Regions from separate parts of the Homo sapiens genome. Here regions 2 and 3 are each reported to be linked to region 1. Evidence: microRNA targets listed by miRTarBase, many of them from high-throughput screens and not tested one by one. Region 1 holds a microRNA gene; each other region holds the end of a gene's coding sequence.

Evidence for each region. Region 1 holds the annotated microRNA hsa-miR-193b-3p (AACUGGCCCUCAAAGUCCCGCU, at 2,101-2,122, shown strand). A microRNA usually pairs through its seed, bases 2 to 8, with sites in the 3' UTR of a target mRNA and lowers its output. Matches are read on the target gene's strand: a 7mer-m8 pairs with bases 2 to 8, a 7mer-A1 pairs with bases 2 to 7 and ends in A, and an 8mer does both.
Region 2: the mRNA of KRT19 is a reported target of hsa-miR-193b-3p. The part of its 3' UTR that is shown has no 7-base or 8-base seed match.
Region 3: the mRNA of IPO4 is a reported target of hsa-miR-193b-3p. The part of its 3' UTR that is shown has no 7-base or 8-base seed match.

What each region holds. Positions count from the first base shown.
Region 1 is chr16:14,301,917-14,306,064 of GRCh38, forward strand. It overlaps MIR193B (microRNA 193b), which reads left to right and starts at 2,051; the gene lies at 2,051-2,133. The region is part of intron 1 of MIR193BHG (MIR193b-365a host gene); the gene reads left to right. RefSeq lists silencers at 109-598, 883-1,043, 949-1,188, 2,142-2,191.
Region 2 is chr17:41,520,489-41,524,488 of GRCh38, reverse strand. KRT19 (keratin 19) reads left to right here. Exons shown (of 6, transcript NM_002276.5): 4 at 1-110; 5 at 221-346; 6 at 492-872. The coding sequence ends at 746. Among named protein-coding and RNA genes, the nearest start is that of KRT15, 3.6 kb to the right of the region's middle. RefSeq lists an enhancer at 1,947-3,146.
Region 3 is chr14:24,177,150-24,181,149 of GRCh38, reverse strand. IPO4 (importin 4) reads left to right here. Exons shown (of 30, transcript NM_024658.4): 29 at 392-461; 30 at 578-931. The coding sequence ends at 708. It overlaps REC8 (REC8 meiotic recombination protein), which reads right to left. Exons shown (of 19, transcript NM_001048205.2): 8 at 3,928-4,000; 9 at 3,767-3,797; 10 at 3,609-3,685; 11 at 3,392-3,441; 12 at 2,928-3,059; 13 at 2,478-2,544; 14 at 2,234-2,373; 15 at 2,017-2,065; 16 at 1,687-1,753; 17 at 1,424-1,555; 18 at 1,244-1,350; 19 at 896-1,140. The coding sequence ends at 1,055. Among named protein-coding and RNA genes, the nearest start is that of REC8, 7.1 kb to the right of the region's middle.

The DNA of each region.
Region 1 (4,148 bases):
CCCCAGGGTCGAGGCTGACGTCGCCGCCGCATTTCTAGGAATGCCCCTATCCGCTGACTATATTTGGCGAGCGTTTCTAGGAAGGCGCCCCCCCACCCCGGCCCCCGCCCCCACCCCCACCCCCACCCCCACCCCCACCCCCACCCGGGCGGGCGCGCTAGGCTTCCAGGCTCTCGCCCTCTCTGCCTGGCCGGGGAGGAGCCGCCCCGCCGCCTGGGCCGCTGCCGCCGCCGCCTCCCCAGCGCGGCCAACCCCGGGCCGGCCCAGCCCCCGCCCCGGGCCGGCCATAGGGCGCTGGGGGGTTGGGGGGGGCGGGGGCGCGGCTTTGTGGCGGCAGCGGACCGTGGAGGCCGGGTGCAGCCCCGTCGGCTGCGCGCTCTCTGCAGAAAAGGATTTTCTACGCTCCCCGCCCATCACTTGGATCTCGTCTGGGGAGGGGCGGATTTTTTTTCTGGAAGTACCCTTCTTCTCCACGGTGGAGGATTTAAGGCTGGGCTCCAATCGAGGCGGAGGCTGCAGGGCCCGCGGGGCGCCCCCCGCCCGGCGCACGCCTGCCCGGAGCCCGGGAAGGCGCAGCCCTGGGTGGGGGGGCCCGTGCACCCCCGGAGGCGGCAGCGGCGGTGAGTGCTCCCCTTCTTCCCGCCTGGCACCTTCCGCCAGCCAAGGCAGGGATCGCGGCAGGTGGGTGCCCAAGCCCCCAGGGCCGAAGGGGTGTGGGGCGGCTGTCTGCGGGGTGGATGGGAACGGGAGAGGGGAGGTGGCGGCGGGGGAGCGCGCGGTTCTCTCGGGACTCGGCGCGAGACGCTTGTCTGGGCTGCGATTGCCGCCGCTGCCGCCACCCCGGCTCCCCCTCGGACCCCTCCCCCGCTCCCCAGAGGGGCGTGTGAAGCCGGGAGGTAGGAAGGGGGCGAGGCCGCCCCCAGCCTCCCTAGTGCCTGGGCTTGGAAATTGACGAGGCGGTGGAGCGTCCGCGTCCCCGCCCCCACCCCGGAAAGCCCGCTCGGGAAACTGACTCGCTGCGTGACCCCGATCTCAATGCCGCGCGCGGAGCAGGCCGGCCGCGCCCGCCGCTCCACGTGCGCCCGAGCCCCGCTGGCATGGGCGGCGGCGCCTGCGGGGGCCGGGCCCCGGGGATCCCGGACTAGCCGGGAACCACCGTCCCCAGAGAGTTACCGCCGCCCCCTAAAGTTGTCAGCTCCCTCCCCCCGAGAAGCAGGCAGCCCTGGCGCGTTGGCTTTAGCTTCTGCAGGACGGGGGCAAAAAAACTAGGTTCCGGGGTGCGGAGCGGGGTGTCTGTGCCCGAGACAACACCAAGTTAGGAAAAAGAAGTTAGAAAAAAAAAGAAAAAGGCATTTTGATTTGGGGGTGGGGGGAGTGGCGTTTCTGGTTTCTCTTTGCTTCCAATCCCCACCAAGCGGAGCGTTGGAATGCGCCGCTTATGTCCTCTGAGGACACATCCATATTTATAATTTATTTTTAGGAGAAGTTGTGAAAAAGGGAGGGGGGTTAAAATGAGGAGAAAAGGTGCGTGGGGGAGTGGCCTTTCCAGAACCTAGAGGCTAATTAAGCTATTAAAATGGAAATCATTTCCCCCAACTTGGGCGCGCAGCAAATTTGACTTTAATGAGAGACGATTAAGGACACAAATAACCAAACTTTATTTAGCTGGAGATGGGGTGGGGGGAACTGTACGAGGCACCTCGGACACCCGATTTATCCGCTGCTAAGGGACGTTTGGGGCACCCCTCGTGTTGTCCGGGAAGCTTTTAGGCCTGTTTGCTGGGCGAGATTGGTGATTGCTCCGGGAGGGAAGAGACACCCCGGGATCAAGCGATCCTCTTGCCCTCAGCCATGGTGTGGCAAATGTCCCCTCCTCCCACAGCGACCCCCTGGCATTTTGGTGAGATGAACCGCCGCCCTGAGGGAACACCCAGTAACGATTCCTTCAGTGATCCCGGTTCTCCAAACTCTTGCCTCAAAGGCGGCCTGCCCCGGTGCTGTCAGCCGTGAATGGGGACTCACTTCTTGGGAAAAGAGGCTTTTGGAGGCTGTGGTCTCAGAATCGGGGTTTTGAGGGCGAGATGAGTTTATGTTTTATCCAACTGGCCCTCAAAGTCCCGCTTTTGGGGTCATTCTGGACAGCGAGGGACTCAGGCCCCGGCAGTCTCGGGAGGGTGAGGGCAGAGAGCTACCACCCCCAGGGAGCGCGTCCAAAACCCGGCTGGCGGGGGGGCGGGGAAAGAGGGGGAGGTTTGCTACTTTCCATAAAACTAAAAGGTCCCTTCGAGGGCGGTATTCTTATAAGTGTGTGTTCTCAGTTTGCCGAACCTACTGTGTTTTCCAAGGGCTTCTCTCCTTGGGAGGCCGAAAAACGATACAAGGAGGAGAAAGTACATTCCCCCTGACCACCCCCACAGTGGTTTAAGGGACAGTATTGGATTGGAAAGGAATTAGTAGGATGTCAATTGTGGCAAAGTGTTTGAAGCCCCCAAATAAGGCGCTCCTGAAATGATGAATTGTAACGACATTAGATTTGTCTTTACGTTTGCTAAATTAGGAGAAACCAGCTGTTTGCTTCCACCTGGAATTGCAACATTTCTTTGCAACTCTTTGCTGTTGAAGGCGTTCTTTTTGTTCTGTTTTGTTTTGTTTGTTTGTTTGTTTGTTTTTTGGGGACAGAATCTCGCTCTGTCCAGGCTCTGACCAGGCTGGAGTGCAGTGGCGCGATCTTGGCTCACTGCAACCTCTGCTTCCCGGGTTCAGGCGATTCTCCTGCCTCAGCCTCCCGAGTAGCTGGGATTACAGGCGCCCGCCACCACGCCCGGCTAATTTTTTTGTATTTTTAGTAGAGACGGGGTTTCACCGTGTTAGCCAGGATGGTCTCGATCTCCTGACCTCGTGATCCGCCCACCTCAGCCTCCCAAAGTGCTGGGATTACAGGCATGAGCCACTGCACCCAGCCAGGCGTTTTATAGAAGGCTGGATAATACGTTCAGGGGAAGTCTCTAAAGCAAGGGTAGTGTGTATAAATCCCCGTCGCAGAACATTAACCTTCAGTTGTGTGTACACACACACACACACACACCCTATATAGTTGTAACCTATATAGACTTTCACACATCCTAAGTTATTTGCAAGTCTAGATTTAAATTAAGTCTACATAGCAGGGAATAGAAAAGTGAGCTGTACCTGGAAAAAACCTTTGAACACAGCGTTCTTGATACAAGATTTAGGATTTGAAAGACATGGCACATGTACACACAGATGACATTTGTGCTGCCTTGGCAAAAACAGTTCTTTACTTCCAGAGTTCTTTCTCTTTAGTATGGGACACGATGAAACAGCACAATTTTCAGGAGTCCACAATTCCAGCGAGGCGCGTGGATGGGAAATTGTCACGTTGTGAATTGTGTTTGTGCTTTGCTAAATCGCCACCCGGAGCTGACTGTCAAATCCTATTTGCTTTGCTAAATAAGGATATCTCATCAAATTAGCCTTTAATGATACTTCTACAAATAGGGTGTTTTACATGAATTAACGAGGCCGGAACACTGACTGTTTCTCCAAGATACTGAGCTATAATGGAGGCGACGAAGCCGAATGTTAAAATTACTGAATTGTTAAGTGTGCAAAATCAGACAGAATTTAGTGCTAAATGTGAAACAATTTCTGCTTTAATGGTGAGCATTCGCAACAGCACAAGCATTACTTATATTCAGCCGTCTGAAACTGTGCATGTAATTATGAATACATTTAACAAACTTTAACCCCCCTCTGAGTCTGGAAACAGTCTAGTATGGTGAAGAGATTATAAATCAGCATTTTGCAGTGAGAAGTCATCATTAATTCAGCAAAGAATCACAGCTTCTTTTCAGATCCTTCCCACCACCCTCCTACACACCCCCCTCAACCAATAAGGAAAAAAAAAATTCAGCATGGAACTGCTGGATACACTGAATATATTTTGGCTTTTCTCTTTTTGCCTCTGTGTGAGAAACTTCATTAAGCAGTTGCTGTTCCCTCCCCACCCCCGCTAACCCCCAAAGAAGTGTGGATTTAAGAAAAAAAAAAACAAAAAACAAGCAACTTTGAATTTTGTTCTTAGCAATCCCCAAGCCATAGCTGATCTCAGAGAGGCAAAAAAGATG
Region 2 (4,000 bases), not on the chromosome of region 1:
ATTCCGCTCCGGGCACCGATCTCGCCAAGATCCTGAGTGACATGCGAAGCCAATATGAGGTCATGGCCGAGCAGAACCGGAAGGATGCTGAAGCCTGGTTCACCAGCCGGGTAGGTAGAGGGAAGCAGGCACCCTTTGGGGGTTAGGAAGGGGAGGGCTTTGTGTTCCCTACGCGAAGGTCTGACTCAATGCTTATTCCCTCTTCTTCCTCTCTCTGCAGACTGAAGAATTGAACCGGGAGGTCGCTGGCCACACGGAGCAGCTCCAGATGAGCAGGTCCGAGGTTACTGACCTGCGGCGCACCCTTCAGGGTCTTGAGATTGAGCTGCAGTCACAGCTGAGCATGGTATGTGTCCCCCCACCGCCGCCGCTTCCCTGTGCAATTCACACTTATACCCTTGCAGCCTAGGGCAGCCTGGCCGGTGGCTGTGCCCATGCCCTCTCCGGGAACCAGGCTCTGCTGAGTCACAACCCCCTCTCCCTATCCTCAGAAAGCTGCCTTGGAAGACACACTGGCAGAAACGGAGGCGCGCTTTGGAGCCCAGCTGGCGCATATCCAGGCGCTGATCAGCGGTATTGAAGCCCAGCTGGGCGATGTGCGAGCTGATAGTGAGCGGCAGAATCAGGAGTACCAGCGGCTCATGGACATCAAGTCGCGGCTGGAGCAGGAGATTGCCACCTACCGCAGCCTGCTCGAGGGACAGGAAGATCACTACAACAATTTGTCTGCCTCCAAGGTCCTCTGAGGCAGCAGGCTCTGGGGCTTCTGCTGTCCTTTGGAGGGTGTCTTCTGGGTAGAGGGATGGGAAGGAAGGGACCCTTACCCCCGGCTCTTCTCCTGACCTGCCAATAAAAATTTATGGTCCAAGGGAGGAAGGACGTTTGGTTTATTATTTCAGCCCATGGAGAGAATAGGTCGTTCGGTTTGTTATTTGAGCCCATGGAGAGATGGGTCCTGCCTTGGCCCTGTTTAGGTTTTATTTGAACCAAAGTTCACTCTGTCCCAGGAAAGGGAGGGGAGGGTACTCACATACTTTGCCTGTAATGGTAATTCCTGTTTACAGAAGTCTTCATTTATTTAACCCGTTCCTTAAAATAACCTCATGAAATAAGCATTGCTTCCATTTTACAAAAGTAAACTAAGGCTCAGAGAGGTGAAGTGTTTTTTTCTATATGTAACTGCTCTAATGCATGGCAAAGGTGGGATTTGAAATTGTTTTTGCTTCTAGATTTAGTTTTCTTTCTACTCTACTCCCCAGGGCGTTGAGGTATCTGTGTGAAATTAATGTTTATTGAACACCTACTATGTGCCATTGAATTAAAAACAGCCCTAAAAGGTAGTATGAGCTGCATGTTATAGATCAGGAAATAGGCTCAGAGAGGTTCAGTAACTTGTCCAAGGCCACACAGCAACTACATGGTAGAGCCAGGACTAGAACCTAAGTTGCCTGATTCTTAGCCCATGGTGCCAGCCCCTGCCAGGTGGTCTCCTGGAGTTGACGCCACTTGTGCCGGTCTTGCTGACATTCCAGTCTTGTGCCCTATGAAGGCTCAGGCCGGGGATCCCTAGGGGCAGTTCCTCCCGACACATTTCTCCACCTCACTGAAACTGGGGGTTTGGGGCCAGGCATCCCGCTTGGAGCAAGGCTGGGGAGGCTGTACCTGTCAGTGTGTGTTGTGTGTGTGCATGCACTAACACATTCACCCATTTTTGGGGCAGCCCTGCATAAGCCCTTTAACGCCCACCAGCCCATACCTGGGCCCAGAGCCCAGAATGGGACCCAGCAGTGACCCAGACCTCCCACAGAGACCCCAACCCTGGCTTGCCTGGGGCCTGCCCTGGGCCAGCAAAAGAACGAAGTCCCAGCTTCCTGGTACAACTCTGCCCTTGGGTAGGTATGGCCCTGCTCCTGTGGTTTACATCTCAGCTGCCAAGAACTGAGGCCAATTCAAGGTAAGGAAGAGGCCCCAAAAGAAGTCCCACTTCTTCCTGGTGGAGAGGTGAGGGCTGCAGGCCCAACCCTATGAGTGATGGGGGCAAGTGAGGGACACTAGTTCCACGCCCGCATGCTGCCAAATGTACTCAGCACCCTGCTAAGGAGGCTGGAGACCCCATCACGGCCATGGCAATCCCGAAGGAGGAGCTGTTTCAAGGTTGGTTATGAACATGTAACCCCAGAGCCCCGCTGCTGTAGCCTGGACTGGGACCCCCTTCTGCCCCCTCCCTAGCTGTCCTGTTCTGGCCTCCAGCACCCACAAACCACCACCCCCAACTTAACTTCTCAGGAAGCCTTGGAGCTGGAGGGAGAGGCCTGGCTGCACCCCCAGCTGGGACTGCCCAGAGGCGCTTGTCCCTGCCCATGAAAGCCTCCCTTGTCACAGCTGAAACCTTCCCTCTGCCTCAGGGGCCCCTGGAATGTGGCTGCGGGGCGGGGTCTGGGCCCACACAGGTGGGGCAGGTGACTGTCAGGTCTCAGGCCTGAGTGTCAGGAATGAAGCCTGCCTTTGTGTGTGCACAGTGCAGGGTGGGGCTGGACTGGGGACACTTTTCTGTCTCAGCCTGGAGACCTGGGATAGGAGGGAGAGGGGAGTGGGGAAGTTGAGGGGAGTGCCTTTACATCCTGCTGGTCATCGTGGCCACTTCAGTCTGTTGAGCATTTCCTGTGAGTCATCTTGCTCCAACTGAGAGTCAGGCTGAGCTGGAGTTATTTCCATTTTCCTGATTGGTAGACTAAGGCTCAGAGAGAGGAGGCGGCATTACCCAAAGCCGCACAGCTGGTAAATGGGAAAAGAGGGGTTTAAAGGTAAGTCTCTGGGCTCCAGGACACACCCCCTCTCCCTGGCATTTCCCTGGGGAACAGGAGAGGTGTGGGAGGGTTCTAAGGTTGTTGGAGACTTCATTCTCCTTGTGCCCTCAAATGCTCACTATGGCCCTGAGGGGAGTCTGTGTTAATGGCCTAAGTTTAAATCAGGAACCAGGCTCAGAGAGGCTGAGTCTCTTTCCACTGGGCTGCACTGCCTCATTCTAAGGAGAAAAGGCCAGCTCCACAGATGGCCCCATCTGGCTGCAGTGGGCAAAGGTCAGAAACTGGCACAGCATCCTGGGCAGGCTGCCTGGGGCAGGGCCCGGGGCTACAGCCTGGGCTGGGGCCAGACAGAGCTTTATCTTCGCAAGGCCATCCCACCTGGTGCTAATGAGGAGGCTCCGGGCCCCACCCAGATCTGGAGCTCACAGTAGCGGTTTGGACTGAAACCAGGGATTTGTGCGTGGGGCAGTGAGGGGGGCAGCTGCCGCCCCTGGCCTGGGCCTGAGAGTATAGAGAAAGCCACCTCGAGGGGCTGCTGGAGGAGAGTCAGGTGCAGAAGGGGATCTGGCTGGGGTCCAGCCCTTCCTCACCCTGGGGTGAAAGGCGAGTAATTGTTCTTGAGTTAATTGCTGGGGCCACAATGTCTGCAGAGGCTTTTAATGAGCTCTGGATGATCTGAGTTTGATTATTTTTCTTTCGGAGGAAAAGACAATACCCTCCCACCCATGAGACAATACCACACTGTCTGTGCCCAGCATTGGAGGCCAGGCTCACTGCGAAGATGGATGAGAAGGAACCCACCCCCAGCCTTGCTGGCTGGCAGTTCCCCTTGCCAGCCCAGCTCAGATGCAGGAATTTGGGGTCTGCAGGAAGGACTCTTTCCCTGTGCCCTGTTTGGTTGAGGGTGTGAGGACCTGTTTGAGTCCTGGCTTTGCCCCTTACCAGTGGTGCCACCTGGCACAAGTTGCTTCACCTCTCCAAGTTTCAATTTCATTCTTTCTGAATCTTGGGTGGGGGTCACCCTCTGTTGTGAGGATGAGAGGAGGTGATGGATGCAAAAGTGCTTTGTAAATCACAAAGTGCAGGGTAGAAGTAAAGGATTATGCTATTATAGCAAAATAAGAACCTAAGAACAACCTGCGTTGCCCCATAGGAGCTGGCTATGGAAGGTCGATGCCGTTGAGCCTAAGAAC
Region 3 (4,000 bases), not on the chromosome of region 1:
CATTTCAATCAGATCAGCTCTGCTCTCTGAAGAGATTTTGCCTGTACCAAGTAGCTAGGTTTGGAGTCATGTCAGAGTGTTTGTGTCACCCTTGTCTTATACCTTTAGAGACTGTTGTGTAGGTGAAGCTCCTGAGTGTCTGGGTTTCTTTAGGTCTTGAGGCTATGACTTTAATCATCTTGTCCCACATCCCCCATTCCCTCCAAAAAAAATCATTAGCACCAAGTTTCATTGGTTCTTCTCATGTTCATAGTTGTCTTGGATGCCTGTGAATCAGTACCAGGTGCAACCACCCCCCTGATAAGAGATTCTGCCACTCCTTGGTCCTGACCACCCTCCTAGACCTGGGGTCTGGGGCTGCTGCCCTGAGTCAGCCACTCTTTCCTCACAGGTTATAGATGTGGCTCCCGAGCTTCTGCGTATCTGCAGCCTCATTCTGGCTGACAACAAGATCCCACCAGGTGAGGGTAGGAGTCATAGGCAGGGGCTTGCGGGAGGCTGGGAGTGGCAGGGCTCAGAGAGCCTGGGGCAGCGAGGCTTTAGGAGCCCCGACCTTTCTCCCTCCCTCTCCACCCAGACACCAAGGCCGCACTGTTGCTGCTCCTGACGTTCCTGGCCAAACAGCACACCGACAGCTTTCAAGCAGCTCTGGGCTCACTGCCTGTTGACAAGGCTCAGGAGCTCCAGGCTGTACTGGGCCTCTCCTAGACTGCAGGCTGCAGCCAGTCCAGAGAGAATAGAGCCTGCCCAGGCCTTAAGACCACCTCTCAGCCCAGTTCAGTTCTGCCTTACCAAAGATTCTGAGACTCATACCCATTTGGAGCCAGCCCCACTTGCTGCCTTACAGGGCTGTCCCTGAGGCTGGATCTGTTACAAATGAGTCATGACATCATACTGTAATAAAAGCAGCTTGTTTTCTGCTTGAACAATAGCTCTGAGAGCAAGAAGGCTGGAAATGCACATTCAGAAATGAGGTAAGCAGGACCCAGTGAGGCACGACGTGGTTTACTAGAAGTGGCCGGTTTCCTGGCAGCTTTGTAAATGGACTCTAACCTCAGTGGAATCTGGGCCCCGGCTGGATCAGGAGGCGACCATATGGCTTTTCTTGTTTCACGTGAAGAATCTGTTGCGCTGAGAGCACTGGTCAAGAGGCGAGGAGAGGGCAGGTCGGGGGAGTCCCTGTACGGGCCTCTGGTCTCTGTGTCCCTGCCCCACATACACACACACACATGCATACACTCACCCAGGAGCAGGTAGAAGACCCGGGCAGCCATCCTGCGGGGGCTGAGAGGTGACACCAGGCTGCTGAAGTCGGGCTCCCTGTTAGCCTGCAGCTCCAGTGCCACTGCCCTATAGGGATCAAGAACCATTAGCAGAGGCTTCAGCCCGGGTCCACCCCATCAAGGTGCCACCTCCCTGGTACCTGTGCACTGCTTCCAGTGAGAGCAGCTCGAGCTCTGGGGGCAGCACCAAAGGCATCTCCATGGGCACCTCAGGGAGTTCAGGCACCACGGGCAATGCAGGAGCTTCTGGCGCCTCCACCTCAGGCCAGGCCCTAGGAGGACATGAGAGAGTAGGGAAGGTGGCAGCTGTGACAGTGACAAGGGGCATACCCATCCCAGCAGCTGTTTCCACCACCTGGCCAAGGGCTGTGGGCCCTGGCTCCCACGGAGCCTGGCCGCTTACCACCGTTCTTCTGGTGGGATGAGGCTGATGCGGGACTTCTCCTCTTCAGCTGCCTCTAGGGAGATCTCTGTTGGGGGAGGAAAGGCGCTAGTGGGTGTCTGCTTGGGTGGCAGTTAGGGCCTTGTGGCCACCTGGTGTAAGTAGATGGCAGAGCCGTGCGGTGACTTGTTAAAAGCACATAGGTGGGAGAGCTGAGGAGGACCAGTCCGTGCTTCCTTATGTCACACACACACGCCTTCACTCATAAAACAGCTTCAGCAGTTGGGATACTAGTTTCCTGGGACAGTGGTTAGGGTGTGGTCCCACTGCGCCTCTTCTCTAGGTGCTTACCTAAAGACACCATAAGGGGAACACTGGGCTCCAGGGCCTCCCTCGGGACCTGGGGATGGGAGAAGTAGAACTAAGACCCCAAGCATCTGGGACTTGGGCCTCAGAAGGCACAAGGCCAGTGAGCCTGTGCTGTTGGCTCTCATAGCAGGAGAGGGCAGCCAGCTGGTCAGGCAGACCCTGGCACTGGGGCGATGCAGTAAACAGGTGGTGCAGTTACCTCAATCTCACTTGGAACTTCAATCTTTCTCCTTTCCTCCTCAGCGGCTGCCTCCTCAGGCAGCTCTCGCCTGAGGGCTTTTGGGGGTGGCTGGGCACAATGGGTCCAGAGACCCAGTAGTTCAGGGGGTAGCCAGCCAGCTGTGGACAAGAGGGTAGTAGGCACGGGGTTTGAGGCGTGAGGAGCACCAGGAATGAGGAATTGGTTTTGAGGATACTTCGTGCCCAACCCCCACCATTCTTACAGAGAGTTGGGGTTCTGAACAACTCCGCAGGGCCTCTGATGGTCCTCTCGGGCGGCTGCACCATAGGCTGTGTAGTGGGGGAAGGTCAGAAGCCCCATTATAAAGCAGCCACTCCTCAGGGCCCCTTTGCCTCTTTGCAATGCACTGTTCTGGGGCTTCTGGACTTCCCCAGCTTTTGCGCTCATGACCCTGCCTGCCCTGCTCATTGCTAAAAGAAGGACTTTTTAACCTGGTGCCCATGGGTATGACAGGTGGGTCACTAAAGGAGCATGAAGAGTTGTATATGTGCAAACCCACATCGCCTGCATTTTCTGGAGAATGGAGGAGATTTTTCATCAAGTTCCCAATCCTCCCCCCACCCACCTGAGGAGTTTGGAAGGCTCAGCCTGCATGTGCCCCTGGTCATCCCTGCCTCCCTCCCTTCCCCGGCAAAGCCTGGGCTGCACTCACACATTCCCAGCAGTGGGCTCTGGTTTGCAGTTGTTCCTGGAATTTCTCCGGGGAGATCTGAGTCTCCTTGTCCCAGAACAGTAACCGGCGACGACGGCGGCGGCGAGGAGGTGGGGGGACTGGGGGCCTCCTCTGTTGAGTGGGGAGGGCAGGTAGGGGCAAGGCTGCCCATTACTCCTTTTCCTGTCATTCTGGTGGACTGCTAACAGGACCCCACACCCGCCCCTAGAGGAACCTGGAGAGGGCTTGTGCGGGGTCTCCATGCACTTGAGCAGCTCATACCTTGCATAAGGGTACCCATCTGGGAAGCGTAGGCCAGATACGATGGGGCGTAGAAAGGGGCATCTTTTATCATCTGCATTAAGGACCCCTGTAAGCTAGCAGTGGCCCTGGGCTTGGGGAGGCAGTCCTTGTGGGGGAGGGCAAAGAGGAGGAGGAGGAGGATTAGAAGGGAGGCTACTCACCTCTGGGCTGGGTGGGGCTGGCAGACGCAGCTCCTCCGGGGGGGTCACCTCTGCAACAACACCCAAGGGGCTCTGTCCCATAAGCCCCTTACCCCTTGCAGATGCCAGGGCAAGAAACTGCAGGGTCCTCCCTTTAGCAAGTTGGGATATAAAGCCCTTGTCTGCAGCAGTATCCAGGTACTCCCAGAAAAGCCCCTGGGGCATGGTGGGCACTCACCCATGAGTAGGGCCCCAGGTTCCCAGCCTGTCAGCCTCAGCTCCTCAGGACCCAGTGCCTCTCCTATTCCTTCCACCCTGAGGGGAAATGGGCAAGAGAAATGAGGAGACCCTTCCCAGCACTGACACCCTACCTGGTCTAGGAGTTCTTGCCCTTACTCTGCAGGAGCTGGAGGTGGGAGCCGCGGGACTGTGGAGAGAGAATCAGAGTTCAGAGGACAGAAAAAGAGAAATGGGAGCATTGCCCAGTCCCAGAATGCCCACGCCAGGGGTCTGACTATCCAGCTCCAGGCGGGCCCTACGCTGCCGGAGACACCTACTTTCTAACAAGATAGCTTCTTCTTCCTCTGCGATCAGCAGGTCCAGTTCTCGGCGGCTGACCTCTGGGAGCTC